2 linked regions of the Homo sapiens genome follow. The protein of the gene in region 2 purifies or fractionates together with the protein of the main gene of each other region. This does not show direct contact. Each region holds a gene or a part of one and is shown on either strand. Other genes may lie near its edges.

What was found.
Region 1: the proteins of ARHGAP39 (region 2) and TANC2 purify together in Homo sapiens (affinity purification with mass spectrometry; 2 studies listed by BioGRID and IntAct, with this or other methods). This does not show direct contact.

Annotation. Positions count from the first base shown.
Region 1 is NC_000017.11:62,960,113-62,970,208, reverse strand, and holds the start of TANC2 (protein TANC2), read right to left. Parts: upstream 3,975-10,096; 5' UTR 3,460-3,974; intron 1-3,459. UniProt on the Homo sapiens protein: Scaffolding protein in the dendritic spines which acts as immobile postsynaptic posts able to recruit KIF1A-driven dense core vesicles to dendritic spines.
Region 2 is NC_000008.11:144,541,227-144,550,835, forward strand, and holds part of ARHGAP39 (rho GTPase-activating protein 39), read right to left. Parts: intron 7,264-9,609; coding exon 5,901-7,263; intron 4,585-5,900; coding exon 4,023-4,584; intron 1-4,022.

The sequences.
Region 1 (10,096 bases), on a different chromosome or scaffold from region 2:
TATAAAAAGGGAAGTGTTTGGTTACATGAGATATGCAATTCGCAGCACAATAAGGAAAGGTTTCTGTTGAAAAAGAATGGCAGAAGCAATTTGGCTAAGAGAAGAAAATAACTATTATAATTGTGAAAGATGATGTTCCATTTCTTAAACTGGGTAAAAGGCATGTAAGTGTTGGCTGCATTGTGAAGTCTTTATATTTTACACATTTTTATAAATACTTTGTCATATGTGGTCAATATCTTATAAAACAATGTTTAAGTGTGAGAAAAATCTGAACAAACATTTGTTGACATTAGAGGTAAAATGTACATAGGCATCTAATCCATTTGTGCTAATTATGGTAGTTTTTAATATAAATGAAAAAGAGGTCATAAAAATATGAGTAGGAAGAAAAATATTGTAATTTATCCTTAATTTCCCTACAGAAAATAAGCAGTAAAGGTTTACTGGTGCTCTTAAAAAGGCTGTGTGTGTGTGTATGAATGTGTATTTATATACACACACACACACACACACTATATTAAACTACTTGAAATTAACTTTTTACCTCTGAAGTTCCCTTCAAACCAACCACCATCACAAATATTTCCTTAACCACATAAAAAGTACTAATACTCCTCTACGCATAATCCCAGAAATAAGTTAAAAAACAAATTCCTAAAGAGAAATGTTCACACTGCAAATAACTGTATCTTTTGTATATATGCAGACTTAACATCTATGTGAGTTGTCCAGGTTTATCCACATCTATTGTACTTGCTTTATGATGGGCACATGCATTTTAATTATGCCTTGCCAATACTACCTTGAGTGAGAGGGCAATATAGCATATTGATGAGGAGCACAGGTTCTGGAGCTAGCATTCCTAAATGGAAACTTAGCTCTTCTACTTCTCAGCTATATAGTATTGGGCAAGTTATTTAACCTCTCTGTGTTTCAGATTCTCATCTGTAAAACAGAAATAACAACACATACCTCATAGGGTGTTGGAACTGATTAAAACAACGTACAACGGGACTGGCAAAGAATAGGTGCTACATAAATGTGAGCTGTTACTACTAGTACAGCTGGCCCTTGAACAACATGGGCTTAAACTGTGCTGGTCTACTCCTATGCAGATTTTTTTCAAGCAATACAGTATTCATGGGATGCAAAAACCGAGTATATTGAGGGCCGACTTTTCCCTATACATGGTTCCATACACCAACTGCGGGATTTGAGCATGCAAGGATTTTGGCATATGTGGGGGTCCTGGAACCAATCCCCTGCATACAATAAGGGAAGAATGTAGTAGTAATTGTATTGCACCCTCTTCCTGAAAGTACCAAAAACATTCTTAAGCAATCTGAATTCCTAACATCAAATGCTACCTATATTTAAAATAGACACCAAATCTGAGGCCTGATTAACAGTAAGTTTAAAGCCCTTCAACTCTGAAGAAAATAGGTGATTCACAGATCTACATAATACTCTATCAAGAACAATCTGAGAGGACTGGTTCCCCGAGCGCAACTATCAATTTCTTCCCTTACACAAGGGGGCAGTGATAACAAGAAAAGAATCGGGCTCTGTAACACCTCTTCCTACAGACAGTAGGGGGTGGCAGTACATATGGCTTACAGTCAGAACAAAACAGGAAGACCCAACAGAATTCTCTTTATTCTCCTCTGGCCCTTTCCTCTGTTCTTCAGCCCCAACAGCTTCTCAAGGTAAGGGACATATCTACAGAAAAGACTAAAACCCAAAATCAATCACCAAGGAAAATCTATTTTTGTCTTTGAAGCAAATGATCCCTCAATGGCTGAATTTGGATCTAAGGGAAAGCCAATCAGTATGAATTTTCAGATTATCTGGCAAATTACTATAATGAGAACAGCATTCACACATGTAATTTAATTTCTTTACAAGAATTATAACATAAAACATTAAAATCTCATCAATAATTAAGTACATTCTAACGAACACATTTCCATATTTCTGCTTTTGTTATATAGTATATTCACACTCATTGTATGTATACATATAAGTTACATTAAATAGATCATGGAGTTGTCTTTTGTTACTTCTGAAATTCCAGCTATGTTCTGACAATCCTCTCGAAACAGATGTTCTTAAATGGAAGTCACAATGTTTTGCAGCATGTTGGTAATTTCTTATGTATGTATAATATACATGCACATATATCTATATAGAGACATAAATAAATATCTAGATACAGAGGGGAGCAAGAGAGAGGGAGAAAGAGAATGTTTAACGTTTTATTTCGTGCTCACATCCCTAAGAGGATCTACCTGGGAAATGCTGCAAGAAGCACTCCACTGACAGTATCCATGTTGTTGCTTTTTATGCCAATTTACTGTATTCTTTTTTTTTTTTATTTCACCATCCCAACACCAAGAACATACAAGAATATTTTAGTACTGCCGTTCTCTATAATTAACCATTGTGATAGATACTGGCTCCAACCCCTCAAAATGCCTGAAAATCTATCCCTTTTGTTCACCACACTGCTTTGTTTTCCTCATTACAGATATTTTCACCTGTGTAAAAATCAGGAAAAGGGCACATACGAAAAATACTTCCCTTTGCCTAATGATCTTTAACTCATAATTATGGTCAAGACGTTTGGGGTTTTGTTTGTTTCTTTTCCTGGAGAGGAGCAGAGAAGAGAGTGAAAGACACCCGAAACACCAAATCTTCTTCCTAATGTTAATTATCATTGTTTATGTTTTGTGAAGACCATTCTAAACATTCCACACCTGGAAATGAAGACTGGATACAATTGTACCAATGCTCTACACGCTGATGGCAAAACCTGGAATTATTTTAGCCCTATTTTTTCTTTCCAATCTCACAGCCAGACACAATTTGCTTTTTTTCTTTCACGTGGTTACTTTCTCTACCTCAAAAAAAATAGCTTATCATAGCTCCTCCCGATTTCCTATGGCAAAATATCTAGCAATGAGCCTTATTAATCTTTTATTATGCTACACCTCCTTTCCCAGAGGAATTATTAATATCGCTAATAACACTTCGACCATGAATTTCAACGCCACAGAGGCCAGCCCATCCTGTGCCTTACCTGGCACATTTCGCAACTACTTTTATGCTGCATTCTGGGGGCACATTTTGCAACTCGTTCTGCACCACATTCCCTGCCACGTTTAGCAATCCGCCTCGCATCTTATCCTTGGTCCCCGTCATCCAGAGACGCTCTAGGTACCAAATTCCATGACATCTTCGGTGACAGCCAAGTGGCGACCCCACACGCCTCTGAAGCCCGCCTTGGTGTCATATTCGGAGCCAGCCTTCCCCACGCCTTGGACACCGAGGCACTTCGCTGCCCATTTCGCCGTCTCCCCGCTCGCCCCCGCCCCTCTCCCCGGAGCCGAGGCTGTGGAGGCGAACGACCCTGTCACTGAAGCGACCTTTCCTCGCCCTGCTCCCCGGGCCCCTTACCTGCCGCTCTGAGGGGCTCTCTGCACCTCCGGGTCAAGCCCCAGTCCCCGGGGTCTCCTGTGAGGACCGCGCCGCCCGCCGGCGCCGCCCGCGATTCCCGGAGCACCTCGCAGTCCTCCAACGCCCCGCGGCGAGTCTGCACCCCGGAACGGCGCGGCGGGGCCTCGCAGCCGGCGAGCGCAGCCCGCGGCGGTGCTCCTGTCAGCGGCGGCTCGGGGGCCAGCTCTCGCCCCTCGGCTCGGCTCGGCGGCGGCGGGCGCCTCGCTCCGCCTAGCGCGCGGCACAGCCGGGAGGTGAGCGCGAGGGGGATGGGAATGGGGGCGGGGCCGCCCGAAGGAGGCGCGGAGGGCGGTGGCGGCGGGAGGGCAGCGCCAGCGGCCCTAGGCCGGGCGCTCGGAGCGCTCGCAGCTTCCCCCGCCGGGCGGGCGGCTCGCGCGAGGCGGCTGTGCCAGCGGGCCCCGCCGGAGCAGCGCGCCCAGCAACCCGCGCCCCGCCGGCCGCTCGCTAGCGCCGCCGCCGCGCTGGGGGCGTCGCACCCTCTGAGGCCGCCCGCAGCCCCGCCCCCTCCGGGCTGGGGTGGGGAGGGGCGCGAGCGCGGAGGGAGCGCGCGTGCGTGGGGGCGCGTGCGTGGTGGAGCGCGCGCGCCCCCGCCCCTTCCACAGTTTGGGGGTGGGGAACGGCTGGAAGAGGGAGTGGGGACGCAGCCCTCCTCCGCGCGGAGAGACGGGGCCCTGGCTCTGGCGCTCTGGGATGTCCTGGCATTTCTCGTATCCCCGGGGGGCTCGGACTTGTGGGTGGCATTTGGAGGGGCAGCAGGGAGGACGCTCGGTAACTGACAAGGCCCTACATAGTTGGGCTCCGCCCTCAGGGGTGATGTCACTCTCGAGGTGGCTGCTGCTGTCACGTGCGCCCATTTCAGGGCCTGTCCTCCTGCTTTGATGACCGGAATGCTCTCCTAGATCTCCCCCACTTCGGTCACCTCAGGCACATATCACTCTGAGAGTCCTCGAAGCCTACAAGTGTCAGTTATTCTTTCCCGGATTCTCAGTGGTAGTTTGTAGACGACTTCAAAAGGCCACGGTTGGCTGTGGGGAGAATCAGAATGAGAAAGAAAAACAAAACAACAGTGGGGTTTGTGGGGAGACCGAGACTGTTATTTAGAATAATGGCTGAAAATTCACCAACCACAGCTTGCAAACCTGAGGTAAAGTCGTGGCGCTGCTTCTGTCACTGCCAGGTTGACTAAGAAGTAGCGTGGTTTTAAGAGCTGGTCGACAAGGGCGGGAAAGCCACCACATTAATACCTCGTCGAACGATGTTAGGTCATATTTCACCCTCCACCTAGATCTTCTTCCCCTCTACTGTTTCCCTCCTATCATAAAACAGCAAGTCGGCTGTGGGAGGTATTTGGGACATAAACATCATCGCGTGCTGCAAGATGATGCGAAGCAATCACCGTTACCAACTCTGCCCGGCTCGCCTTCCCTTCCATAAACTGAGATGACCTTTCGTGGTCATCCAACTTCTTAATCAGATGACATGATTGGAAATAGATGCGCCAAATTACATCAATCAAGGAAGCTCTGTCTGTGGCGCTTCCAAGGTAGAGAGGTTTGTTTGATAACAGCACTTTAATCTGCCCCATCCTGTAGCACTTCATCCAGGAGTTTCTTCGATTTTCAAAAATTAGTATTAATTTCAGAACAATACAAGAAACTGGATATGAACATGTCCATCCAACAGCTCTTCTTTACAGTGAATGCTTGCAAAGTCAGAGCTAGAGCAGCTTTGAATAATACAGCTAACATGGCAAGGTGAAGGGCTGACATATGGAATCTTTTGGTGTTAACTCCAGAAAGTTAGATTAATCTAATGAAAACCCATCTACCTATGGTATTAGAGGCAAGGTAGTGATTACTTACAGGGGAATTGATTGAGAGGGGACAGGAGAGAGCCTTCTGGTTTGCTGGAAATATTCAATATCTTAATGGTTACCCGGGTGTATACATATGCAAAAAGATCTGTGCACTTCATGTCAGTTTTTTAAAATCACATACACACAAAGAAGCATTACAATGTCATCATCACTGCAGTCGGAAAACCTCAGTTTGAATCTCAGTGTCACCCAACACTTACCTGCTGTGTGACCTTGAACAGGTCTCCGGACCTTCCTTTCTTCATCTGTCTAACGTGGGTGATATTAATACTTACCTCACAGATGGATGTAAAGATGAAACAAAATTTTGGAAAATACTTAGCACAAATCCTGTTACACAATAAGGACTCAGGAAACAGGAGCTATTATGTTATCCTTCTTACACTTGAATTTACCCTATTTAATTCTCCTTCGGTCTTTTTTTTTTTTTTTTTTAAGATTACTTTCTATCTAAGCCTTTCCCTGCGAGTTCCACTGAGGCTAATAACATTCCTTCTCTGAGAAATAACAAAAGGCAGTCAGGGGTGTAATGTTGGTTTTCAAACTAGTTCAGGTGGCAGTCTCTAGAAATTATGGTGCTCAACGTGGAGCATCATGAAATACAGATAGATTTAACTCTGCCATATGGAATTGACACAATTTTACAAGCACTAAATCTGGCAATTTTATGGTTATGCAAATCTCCACATAATCACATAATAAAAAAATGGGGGCTTTTTGTTGTTGTTGTTGTTCTTTTTTTTTGAGATAGAGTCTCGACCTGTCACCCAGGCTGGAGTGCAGTGGTGCCATCTCGGCTCACTGCAACCTCCGCCTCCCGAGTTCAAGCGATTTTTGTGCCTCAGCCTCCTTCCCAAGTAGCTGGGATTACAAGCACACACCACCACCCCTGGCTAATTTTTGTATTTTAGGTACAGATGGGGTTTTGCCATGTTGACCAGGCTGGTCTCGAACTCTTGACCTCATGTGATCCACCCAACTTGGCCTCCAAAAGTGCCAGGATTACAGGCGTGAACCACTGTGTCCAGCCAAAAAATAATGTGTTTTTAAGAAATAATATGTCTGTGTTTTTCTCTTTAAATTTATTTGCAACTTTTTTACAAGGTAGGAAGTACCAAAAAATTAATAATAATTCACAAAATGAAAACCTTTAAACCCATTTTTCCTGGAAATTAGAAAAACACTGTAATTGTTCAATTTTAGCAACAGAGCTCTTTATTGGATTTACCCACAGTAAGATCTGATAGCTGTAACCCACATGGTCCCCTGCGCTGATAAAGTGAGTAACTCTGACTCACTGTCCTCACCATACTTCCAAAGATCAGTCACCACTTCTTTTAGCCAACCTTTCCCAAATCCCATTTTCATGTGGGCAGTGTCCAGGAATGAACTCACTGCTTCGCTCTTTTGATCATCCACCATCCTTCTATTCTGCCAATTCTCTTCCAGGTCGTTCTACTGTCCAGTCTTATAATTTGTTGCCACACTCTAACTTTGAGGAGGAAACAATATGTCCCTGACAGAGTTGTGAGTGGGGTATAGTAGGGACAGAGAGCAACATTGCAGCAAGAAGCCACCTCTGTTCTCAACTCCTCTCCCTGATTCCCTTTTCTGTCACTATTACCTGAAATCCTGAGAATACTAATTTTATTACCTACTAAAAATCCATTCTAGTAAAGATGTTAGTCTATAACTTAAATTTGGAAATGTAACGTATGCCGTGTAATAAGAACCTGCAAATAATTGTTCATAATGTAGCCCATCCTTGCCCTATACCTCCCAACATTTTAGCATCATCTGTATCATTCAAAATGCCCTTTCTTGCCCTTTCAACTCTGCACTATCACCCACCTCTGCATATGGTGTCTTCCCTGGCTACCTCTAAGTCTCTCTTTCTTTCTTTCTTTCTTTCTTTCTTTCTTTCTTTCTTTCTTTCTTTCTTTCTTTCCTTCTCTTCCTTCCTTTCTTTCTTTCCTTCTTTTTTGACACAGGGTCTCACCCTCATCACTCAGGCTGGAGTGCAGTGGCACCATCATGGCTCACTGCAGCCTCTATTTCTCAGACTCAGGTGACCTTTCCACATCAGCCCCCTGAGTAGCTGAGACCAAAGGTGCATGTCACCATGCCCAGCTAATTTTTTATATTGTTATAGAGATGGAGTCTCGCTATGTTGCCCAGGCTGGTCTCGAACTCCTGGGCTCAAGCAATCCGCCTGCCTCAGCCTCCCAAAGTGCTGGGATTACAGGCATGAGCCACTGTGCCCAGCCCTCTATGTCTCTTAAGTAAACCATCAGGTTCACCTTTTTCTACCCTTTTCCCTCAACTCTCTCTCCCTAAATAAAAAGTCATACCACCCACCACTGAGTGATCACCTACTGGCAGCAAATATTTCACCAGCTACTTTATATGCACAACCTCATTTAATTCCCACAACATCCTATCAGATAAGTATTATCTTAATTTTTTGGATGAGGGGGGTTCTGAGAGGTTAAATAACCAGCCCAATTTTACACTGAATGATGCGTAGAGCCAAAAACTGAACCTAGACATAAACTTTATTCTCTATCAGTTACCCTGAGGAGATTGCCATATAAAGTGTAAAGGAGAACAAAGATTACATATTTTTTAAATGTGGGTTGCCAGTTGCTCATGCCTGTAATCCCAGAGTCTCAGAAGACTGAGACAGGAGGATCACTTGAGGCCAGGAGTTCGAGGCCACAGTGAGCTATAATTGCACCACTGCACTCCAGCTGGGGCAACAGAGTAAGACCCCCCACTAAAAAAAAAAAAAGTGAGCCATGTCACACAATGGAAGCATTTCTGAAAGGTTGATGTAAATGAGATTTTTGTCATTGATTGTTTTTCATAATCTCATTTCTTGTTGATCTGTAATTAATGACTTACCCAATAGCTTCAACATTTTCCCCACCAACTCTACCTCAGCCTTTTGATGAATATTTAATATTTCTAGATGAACACTTAAAAACATTTCCACATAGAGGAGCTACTACTTAAAAGAAGTTTCTAGTAAATCCCTTTTTTGTAAAATGAAAAATGCATGTAAAATGTGAATAAACAAATGCTCATATATTTTTACATTGACATTTATAAATGTTTGACAAGTATTTGCACCTACTGTTCGTATATAGCTGTGATAAGTGCCATAGGGCATATAGAATTGATTTGAGGAAAGTCTTGCCTACTTAACTGTCATAATCTATTTGAGAAACAGAATGCTTAAAACATTTAAATATATAATATAGCATATTATAGAATTAAGTCTGAACATGAATAAAACAGCAAGTTCTGTAATTAATTACAAGAAGGAGGGATACAAGTTTGACTGGGATGGTATAGAACTGCTTCTTGAGAAAAGCAGAATAGAAAAAAGAAATGGTTGGAAAGAAGGAAGGAAGGGCCCTGAGAGCTCAACGAAAGTCCAGAGGAGGGAATGAATACGACAACCTCTTAAGTCAAAGAATGGATCTCTTTTAAAGATGAGTTGCTTTCTTAATAAAGACATGAACTCAGCTGCCATTAGGACACGTTCTCTCTCTCATTTCTGACCTTTTGTATTAGGCTCTCTCTCTCTTCTCATTCTACATTTGAGCATTTTCTCTGTTTCTCAGGCTCATGTGTTGTAAAATACATCAGCTAACAGCATTCACAGATTTAGCTAGTAAGGAGAGACTGACTTGATTCTCTGGATATAGAGTACAAAAATTCCAGGAAGGGCTCTGATTGGCCCAGCTTGGATCAAGAGCTCTCTTGCAGCCAATTCCAGGGGTGTACATTATAAATTGTGCAACATGTGTTTAAGTATGAATGCATTTATTTTTTCTGAAGAGGGAATCCATTGGTTCCATTAGATTCTCAAAGGAAGGGATTTGTAACTCAAAAGTAGCAAAGAGCTACTACAAATACAAAATATGCCAAAACCATCTCTCATTCTTCTCTCCCAAAGCAGCCCTTCTGACTCCCCTGCTCTGTCACTGATACTCCAGTCTTCTAGACTGCTAGACTTGTTACCTTGTTGTGTTTTGATACTTCTCTGTTCTTTGCTCCCTGCATTTAGTTATTCAGTAGATTATGTTAATTTTTCCCATGCAGTGGTTTTAGAACTATTCTTTTCTGTTTCCACAGGCACAATCCTTGACTATCAGCTGTCATCTTCTTTAGCTCACTAAATAGTAACATCTTCTTAACCAGATTCTTACCAGTTGTCCCTCCCTGCTCAAATCCACCTTATTAGATGAGTGTTTTAAACTCTGCCTTTCTGTCATTCTCCTGCTGAAAGACTCCACGATGTTTCCTTTCCTGGGCAGTAAGAAACACCCTGTGCAGTCTGGTCCAGGCCCATCTTTTTAACCTTTTACCAACTGATGTCTTTTCTCCTTGTTAATAAATGCTCTCCTATTCAGCCACACTTGTTGCTCAACGATCTGTTCTTTAAACGTGAAATGTGTCTATTTGTAGTTCACATCAATGTTTGTCTTTATTAAGAAAACAACTCATCTTCAAAAGAGGTCCATTCTTTGACCTAAGAGATTGGTCCCTTCCTTCTCTACTCCATCCATTTCTTTTTACTGCTTTGCTTTCCTCAAGAAAGCGAAGAACTCAAGAAGAAGTTCCATACCATCCCAGTCAAACTTGTATCCCTCCTTCTGTGATTTATTACAGAACTTACTGTTTTACTCATGT
Region 2 (9,609 bases):
GCATTTGTGAGCTTCTAAGGGTTTGCTGCCTGCTTCAGCTTTTCCGTTTCCCACCATCGGCCCAGGATTTACCGTTTGTGGTCCACATGCTCCACCTTCTAAAACAGCTGTTCTTCCTTTTCCATTTTCTTTTTCTTTGTGTTTTTAAAAGTTTGGTAAAATACACATAAAATTTACCACTTTAACCATTTAAAAACAGACAGTTCTGTGACATTAAGTACATTTACATTGTTGTACAACTATCACCACTGGCCATCTCCAGAACTTTTTCATCTTTCCAAAGCAGACCTCACTCCCCGCTTCTCCCTCCCTCAGCCGTGGCACCCACCATTCTAGTTTCTGTCTCTGGGAATCTGACTGCTCTAGGGCCTCACGGAGGGAGAATCCTACAATCTCTATCCTGACTGGCTTCTTGCCTTTAGCATGATGCCCTCAAGGTTCATCCATGCGCGTCTATCAACATTTCCTTCCTTTTTAAGGCTGGAAATAATTTTCCATTTTGTGGCTGGACACGTTCTGTTTCTCCATTCAGCTGCTGATGGATCCTTGTCATGTTCCCACCTTTTAGTTATAAGAGCTGCTGTGAACGAGGTGTACAAATCACCATTACAGTCCTGGCTCCCAGCTCTTCTGGGTCATTCTGGAAGTGGAAATGCTAGATGATATGGGAATTATATTTTTAATTATTTGAGGAACTGCCTACCAGTTTCCACAGTGGCTGTACCATTTTACATTCCTTTCTGGGTTTTTTTTTTTTGCCTTTAAAAAATGGCTTCACTGCTGTTTTAGTGAGTTCAAGGCAAAGGTGAAGCAAATGCCCATGTTCAATCCGCCATCTTGAGCTGGAAGCCGGGAGACCTTGTTGGATGCATGAAGAAGCGAGCAGTGAATGAAACCTTTAGGAGTCTCCAGCCTTCCAAAATACACAGAAGTGGAGCAGGTGGGAGAGCTGGAGGCTACCATACCCACTGCCAGGTGCTCCTCGATGTCTGTGTCGAGAACCTGTTGAGGGAGGTCCTGGGGACCAGCCAGGAGACCCCCTGCTGGTGTGAAAGGTGTGAGCACCCATGAGACAAGGCTAAGCTGGGGGCATCACCTCGTGGGGCCTCAGTCCCCGAGGGTGGTGACCACACAGTGCAGGTCACGCAGGTGCTGGCCGATGAGTCAAAGGCTCCTGAGGCTGAGGCAGGCAGGGTGCTCAGGGCGACGCACCAGGCTCAGCTCTGCTCCTCACCGAGGGTCCCTAGGCTACAGTTTCCTTTTTCTAAGAACTGTGCTGCAGCCTAGCTGGCCCTCCACAGTACAGGCTATATCCGACATCCTCCTCGGCTGATAGGGCCTGTCTTTCTTTCCTTTCTCTTCTCTTCCTTCCTGCTTTTCTTTCTTTCTTTTTCCTACCCGCCCCCCCACCCCCACTTCGACGGAGTCTTGGCCGGGCACAATGGCTCACGCCTCTAATCCCAGCACTTTGGGAAACTCAGGTGGGTGGATCAACTCAGGTCAGCAGTTTGAGACCATCCTGGCCAACGTGGTGAAACCCCGTCTCTACTAAAAATACAAAAACTAGCTGGGTATGGTGGCGCGCACCTGTGGTCCCTGCTACACGGGAGGCTGAGGCAGGACAATCGCTTGAACCCAGGAGGCAGAGGTTGCAGTGAGTCATGATTGCACCACTGCACTCCTGAACTCCAGCCTGGGCAACAGAGCGAGACTCTAACTCCAAAAAAAAAGGGGGGTCTTGCTCTGTTGCCCAGGCTGGGGGTCTTGCTCTGTTGCCCAGGCTGGAGTGCAGGAGTGCAGTGGTACGATCATGACTCACTGCAGACTTAACCTCCTGGGCTCAAGCAATCCTCCTGCCTCAGCCTCCCAAGTAGTTGGGACCACAAGCATACACCACCATGCTTGGCTAATTTCCTTTTTAAAATTTTTCATAAAGACAGGGTCTCACTTTGTTGCCCAGGCTGGTCTCAAACTCCCAGGCTCAAGGGATCCTCTTGCCTTGGCCCAGAGTGCTGGGATTCCAGGTGTGAGCCACTGTGCCTGGCTGGGCCTGTCTTTCTGAGCAGCAGCCAGCACCTGCATGTGAAAGGGACACCTCCTAGGCACAGGAGGCTGGCTGGAGGGGGTGTGAGGCTCATTTGGGAAGGAATGGCCACTGTGTATGTAGAGGCCTCTCTTCTGGGCTCAGGGCCAATCAGGGACCCTGACAGACGAACCTAGGAGTGGATCCTGGGGCTGGAGATGAGGTTCTGGCTGTGAGGGTGGCCACAGTACCACAGCCAAGATGCAGGCTACCTGCCAGTGGGACTGCACAGAGCCCCAGCCCCGCTGTCACTCCAACCCAGACGGTGCTGTTGGCCTTCATGGGCCTTCTTTGGCAGAGCTCTGAAGCCACGGCCGCCCAGGCTGAAGCCTGATTCCTTTTTCCATGCAGGCCAGGACCCCACAGGTGTAAGGCACAAGGACAAAGGCACACGAGCCTAAGTGTGAAGGGCAGCAGCCTGGAGCACACACTCCCCTAGGAAGCCACAGCCTCTACTTACATACAGCAGAAACAGCCCAGCCACACATTGGCTAGGCAGCTGGCCCAAGATGGGCCCAAGAAACCTCAGGCCTTTGTCTGGCTGTCTTCTGGCCCTCACTTGCCTACTCTCGGGGGTACCCACTGTGGGCTGCATGCTGTGCTGAGCAGTGGGGGCTCAGCTCCATAGCCTCCAGCTCAGGCACGACATTCCCAGGCCCCTCTGGAAGAGGAAGAGGAGGTGAACTATGATGCCAAGAGGAACACAGCCCCTAGAATTCCACCTGCTTCTTGAAGGGCCCAAGACCAGGGACTGGGCTTCACAGGCCAGCCCAGTCTGCCTGGCACCCTGCTCTGGTCCTCCTCTGCACACCTGGAGCCCCGGCCACCTGCCAAACTCTGCCTCTGCTGTGATCTTGTGTTGAAAAGTCGGGTGAAACTGCATGGCTTCCAAAATCTCCCCACAAACAGCTGATGGGCTGGGTGGTGCCTATACCCAACACTGTCCCCAGGAACCTCCCACTGCCCTGTGGCCTCCACCCTGCCTCTGTGTGCCCACAGCAGCTTGGGAGCCACCTCCTCCACACCTGGGCTGGGGGTAATAGGGGTAAGGCCCAGCAAGGCCCTGACCAGGGGCTCAATCTCTGCAGAGGCAAAGGCCAGACCAGGGTGGGCTCTCACTGCCACAGAACAGTCTATGGCATGTCTGACCTGGAGGGTGTGTGTGCGTGCGTGCATGTGTGTGTGTGTGCGCGTGCATTTCTGGATATCAGTTCTGTGGCTGTGCCCTGTAGATACCCATGATGTGAGGTGGAGAGCTGCTTGCTGCAGACACGGGGCTGTCTGGCGGATGGCACCATGGCCTGGGCCCAGCACACCTGAAGCATCGTCTTGGAGAGCCCTGGGCAGACTCTGGCCTCCCACGCTGCCCCAGGCAGCCATCAGGATGTGATGATGGCTCCGACGTGCGACCCCATGGGGCAGCTTTGGGGCAGCTCAGGTGCTGCGTGACCTGCATGTGAGCCAGTCATCAAGCTCCTGCCTGCTCACAGGAGCCTTCTGCCAGGACCATGCCCAGAAGAGACAACCCGGATCTTGCCAGGGTGGTAGCCCTCTAGGTCACGGATGGCAGAAGGCAAGTGCGGCAGGCACACAGGTGCCTGACTACGGCTGCTCCGCCCTCGGCGTCTTCGTGCCTGCCCTTGTCAGGGAGCGGGACTGGCCATGGTGGGCTTGGAGCAGAGTGGATGCGGCCATTGAGGCCCCAAGCCCTCGTGTCTGCCAGGGCTCCGGGGCTCTTCACCTCAGTGCCCAGGTGGGGCTCCAGGAAGAGGCCACATCCAGCAGAGGCCCAGAGTGTGGGGCGTTTTGGGAGGTGTGTGTCGAACCATGGCCCTGTGTGGAGGGCCGCCAGGGACTTCACCAGCTGCCGCCCAGCACAGCAGGAGCCCTCTCCACTGCCCTTACCTGAGCTGGTGGCAAAGCCCGTGCATGGCCTTACCTTTAGTGTCATTGACGGGGTCCATGTGCCGGTAGATGTAGCCTTCCAGGTAGGAGTGGAACTTGGGGGTGGGCGGGAAAAAGGCCAGGCAGATGGCCATGAGCTCCCAGCCGCGGGCCAGGCTCTCCAGGCGGAAGTTCTCGGTGGTCTGCCGGCACAGCTGGATGTAGAGCTCGTCCCGCAGGCCCTGCACGCTCCAGCCCTTGGTGGCCACCTCCAGGGCCACGTGCAGTGGGTCGGCCTTGGCCCGCCGGTCACCCATGTACATCTGGATCAGCTTGAAGAGCTCGCAGGCCTCCTTCTTCACGTGCCGGTCGCTTGTCACGATCATGGGCTTCTTGATGGACTCGCTGCTCCAGGCCAGCATGTTGGCGATGGACACCTTCCGCCGGAAGAGGCCCTGCGTGTGCTTGTTGAAGTGCTTGGAGGCCCAGTTCTCGATGTCCGTCTCCGAGGAGGGCTTGCGCAGCGTGAAAGTGGGGAAGACGCAGCTGGAGCTGGGAACGCCGCTGCGGCTCTGCCGGCTGCTCTCGAACTGGGCACAGGCAGCGAGGTCCTCAGACTGAGAAGGACAAATGCGGCTGGGCTGTTGGGGGTGGGGGAGGGCCAGGCAGGTGGGCCCACTGGGCCACAGTCCCCAGAAGTGTGAGCTGGGGCCCCACCAGAGCCAGCCAGGTGAGAGCCCTGCCCTGCTCACCACAAAGCTGTCTGAGGTGGGAGGCCCAGGGGAGCCCAGCCCGTCCACAGATGCAGCTGGGACGCCGGAGCCCTGTACTCCCAGGGTGTGGCAGGGCAGCCTGCTGATGGGTGACCCAGGTGACCTGGCTGAGGGTGAGGCGGGAGGAAGGGGAGCATCCGCTGGCACCCCCAGGGGGCTGACCTCATTCTGCCGCCCCCTGAGGAAGTGTCAGTGCCCTTGTTCAGGCACGGAAGGCTGCAGTTCACACCAGGTAAAAGTGCTGTCTGGTTCCCAATCCCTTCACTGCTGGGACCCCAGGCCCTTCCCTCCAGCCTTCACCCCAGGCCGACCTCCAGGAGGCCCCTCCCTGCCTGCTGCTCTGAGAGAACCTGGTCCATGCACCCTGGGCCTCTCTGCCCTCTTGTCCTGCATCTTGAGAAGTGGACAGAATCACGGACCGGAAGCTGCTCTGAGTTCTCCACCCTGGAGACCACGAAGGCCACCCAGGCCCTCGAGGTCTCCCCACCCAAGGAAGCTCCCTGTGTTCCTCCTCCACCCTCCCGGGTCCTCAGACGCTAGGCCTGCCCTCTGCCTCACCCTGTGAGAACAAGGAGGTGAGAACAAGGATGGAGATGCTGGACAGAGGTGCACGTGGCCTCCACGGGATCTAGCCTCCATCAGCTCCAGGAGCCAGATGGGGAACGTGCCAGAGGCCCCAGGCTGGGCGCAACATCCCGGAATTCCTGCGGCCTCTGTCCTCCCGGCAGTTCTTCCTACCCGAGGGAGCCTCGGGGACTGGCTTTGAGAACCACCAGGGAACCCCCGACACCTTGGCTGCCTGCTCCTCAGGGGCCCAGGCCACGGCTCCGGTGGCCACCACCCTCCCAGGCTGCTGAGGCCTTCTCTGTTCTGTGTCTGGAGTCAGGGTGTGGCCTCCAGCTCCCAGGTGCCCCCAGGATGAGGAAGGCACTGCCAGGGAACGCCCAGCAGCCCACACCCCACGGGGCCTCCTCGTGGACTCCCAGCTGAGCCCTGACAGCCCGCTGGAGTGCCCAGGGCCCCGGAGACACGGGGCTTCAGAACTCTGCGTGCTGCGTGCACGCCCTGGACGCCAGGTCTCCTGTGCCTGGCCCACGGGGTCCACTCTGACTGGGCTGGCCCCAGGCTCTCAAGCTCAGCCGCGCCCATTGGGCCCTCACCTGTGAGGGGTGGAGGTAGGGCTCTGGTGAGGCCAGGTTGGTCTGCACGGAGACGCTCTTCTCCAGCAGGATCTGGGGGAAGCCTAGCTTCTCGAAGGTGCCCCTCCTCCAGTGCCTGTTCTCCTGCTGGGCCAGCGCCTCGTCCTCGCTGAAGGCCCGCACCACCGGCCCGGGCATGGGCAGTGGCAGGGCGCCGTCGCTCTCGTAGCCAGAGCCGTCCTGCTGGGAGTCCCAGCTGCTCCTCTGCTTCATGTGGAAGTGGGCCTGCTGCGCCTCCCAGGCCAGCCGAGCCTGCGCCAGGAAGGGCTCGGCCGCGCCCCGCGCCCCTTCGGCCTCACCTTCCGCTCGCTTCACGGGGGCGAGGCTGGTCCCGCACGGGGGCTGTTCCTCGGCCAGGGGCTGCTCCACAAGCAGGTCCCCGGGGCCCTCAGTGGGGGTGGCGCTGGTGGCTTGGCACAAAGAGGGCTTTCTGCTCTTCCGCTTGCGCGTGCCCGGGGAGTAGCCTGTGGAGGACAGGGTGTCCTGCTGGCTGGACCAGGACATGGCATCCTCCTGGGCCTGTGGCAGCGGCGTGGGCGGCTGGCTGTGCCGCAGCTCAGGTCCCTCCATGGTGCTGTAGTCTCCGGACTTGACGCCCAGGCGCTGGTCCCTCAGCAGGCAGGGGCTGGGCTGCAAGGAGTACGAACCACCGCCGGGGTTGGGCGCGTACTTGTGCCGCGGGCCGGCGCGCAGCTTGGGGCTGGAGCCCGCCTGCTCCACGTAGACCAGCTGCCGCACGTACTCCTTGCCGGCGGGACTGTACTCCAGGCTCAGGAAGCGCTCGGGACACTTCTGCTTGGTGAGCACCAGCTGCTGGCAGGGCGAGGGGGGGCCCTGCTTGTTGGGCTGGAGGAACGGCCGGGGCTTACGGCCCGGCGACCGCTGGGGAGAGCCGGCCTGGTAGCCCCCGCCAGCCTCGAATTGCACGTCCATGGGGGGCTCATCGTAGATGGGGGCCTGGTACTCCACTGGGGGCTCCTCGTAGAGCGGGGGTTCATAGCCATAGCGCGGGGAGGAGGGCTGCGAGTCCCCGGAGGGCTTTCGGGGCTGGGCCAGCAGCGGGGAGCTGCTCCCTGGGAGCTCGGCCCTCTTCAGGAAGGGTGACGGCCTCCTCTCTGGGAAGAAGATGGTGCCGTCAGCCTCCGGGGCGAAGGTCTGCAGGCTGGGTGAGTGCTGGCTGCCGGAGGGTCTGCGGGAGCGGACCCCAGGTGGGCCGTCTGGGGCGTAGCCATTGCCCTGGGCGGCGAGGAAGCTGGGCTCCCGATCAGCGACCTTGATGAGCATGCGCTCTTTGGCGCCCGAGTTCCACCGCAGCGAGGAGGTCCTGCGTGGGGGGTGGACGGGCACAGGTGACTGCCTGCCTGCTGCTTCTGGGCACGCCCCACCCCCTCGGGGGCTGTAGGCAGCGGCTCCCGCGAACCCTCTGTTGTACACCTTCCTCGCTGGGGCCCTGTGGCCTGGCGCCCCTCACACCTGCCTTGCCCCAGCACCCCCAGCCCTCCCTCTGGGGCTCTCCTGGAGCTGCCGCCCACGACCAGGTGTCTGTCTGCTCTGATCCCAGCTCCTGACCGGGCACAGGGCTGCTTCTGTAACTAGAACCGGGGGCGGCGTTACCAGGGCCCTTAATGTGGGTGCTGTGCGGGTGTCTCCAGAGCTGCCTGAGCCGCCGGGCAGGCTCCTGGGCCCTGTGTTCCTGCTGAGCAGTGGCGTTGGACCCGTCCCAGTGGTCCAGGTGAGCCCAGCAGGAGGAAGGCACACCACCAGAATCCCACGGCCCCATTCTCCGACTGGGAGCTCCTGTGAGCTCCAGAAAGACTGACTGTCCTCCTCTGACCCTGCCCCAGTCACCACGCTCACTCCAACAGCTGCAGGTGTCCCACTAACACCGCACCTGGCCAAGGGCACCAGAGTCCCCGGAGTCACGCTGTCTGCGTCCTCACCAGTCCTCCCAACTCAGTGCATGAGTCCCACTCACTCATCCGCAACGAGGGAGACCCTGCTCTGGGCAGCACTGCGGGGCAGATATGCAGACGCAATGCCCACACGTGCTCTGCCCCTGGCGGCCCAAGGTGGGCACTGGTCCTGTGTCCACAGCCATGCCTGCTGTGCAGGGCGCTGGACCCAGGACGCTGCCAGGGAGAGACGAGGGGCCCCTCCACCACCTTCTGTCTCCTGGAGGCCACTCGGGTATGGCTATTTGGGACGCATAGCACTTTGCACATCCGCGGCCTGACGTCTTCTACAATTTCCAAATGTTACTTTTACCCTGTTTCCTCTCTCTTCTCTTCTGGAAATCTAATTGCAGTCTTTCTTACTGTACACCACGTGGTTTTGTTTTGTTTTTTTGAGACGGAGTCTTGCTCTGTCGCCAGGCTGGAGTATAGCGGCACGGTCTTGCCTCACTGTAACCTCTGCCTCCCAAGTTCAAGCGATTCTCCTGCCTCAGCCTCCCGAGTAGCTGGGATTACAGGCACACGCCACCAGGCCCAGCTAATTTTTGTATTTTTACTAGAGAGATGGGGTTTCACCGTGTTGGCCAGGCTGGTCCCGAACTCCTGACCTCCTGATCCGCCTGCCTCGGCCTCCCAAAGTGCTGGGATTACAGGTGTGAGCCACCGCGCCCAGCCCCACGTGGTTTTCATGCTGTGTTCTGCAGTTCCCATTGCTTGGCAGCTCCACACTTCAGAATATTTTCTTCTCAACTGCCTTCCAGTTTACTACTTTTCTATTCAGCTATGTTTAATCTGCTTTTAAACGCATTGTCTTAGTCCATTCAGGCTTCTATAACAAAATACTACAAACGAGGTAGCTTAAAAATAGGGAATGGCCAGGCATGGTGGCTCACGTCTGTAATCCAAAGACATTGGGAGGCTGAGGCAGGAGGATCACTTGAGCCCAGGGCTTCAAGACCAGCCTGGGCAACAGAGCAAGACCTCATCTCTACAAAAACATAAACCAATTAGCCGAACATGGTGGTGTGCTCCTGTAGTCCCAGCTACTCAGGAAGCTGGGGTGGGAGGATCGCTTAAGCTCAGGGAGGTCGAAGCTGCAGTGAGCCATGATCGCACCACTGCTCTCCAGCCTGGGTGACAGAGTGAGACCCTGTCTAAAAAAAAGTAAATAAATAAAAATAAAAAGAACCCCAGGAATTTGGCCAGGTGTGGTGGCTCACATCTGTAATCCCAGCACTTGGGGAGGCTGAGGTGGGAGGATCACTTGAAGCCAGGAGTTTGAGACCAGCCTGGGGAACACAGTGAGACCCCATCTCTAAAACAAACAACAACAAAAAAAGTAGAAACCCCACACATTTTATAAGCCAGTTGTGTCCCTCTGATTGATGTGGGGTCTTTCTGGACAAGGCCACATTCCCCATTGCCTGGGGGGTTGGTGAGGCAAGGCCAGGAAGACATGGCACCCCCTGACCAGGGACAACCTGCTCCAGAACACTGGGCTGTGGGCCCTCTCAGCACGGCCACACCACCCAGGCGAGAAGTCAGGGCAGCAGCCAGGGGCAGAGTGCAGGTGCCTGTTCCTGGGATTTCTGCTCGTGGCTGCTGGAGACTGCTCCCAGCCTGACAACAGGGGCTAGCCAGGCAGAGTGGATGGTGGCAGCCAGTGTGGCAGGGGCCATCAAACCCTGAGGGCCAGCTGTGGGGTCAACCCCTCCATG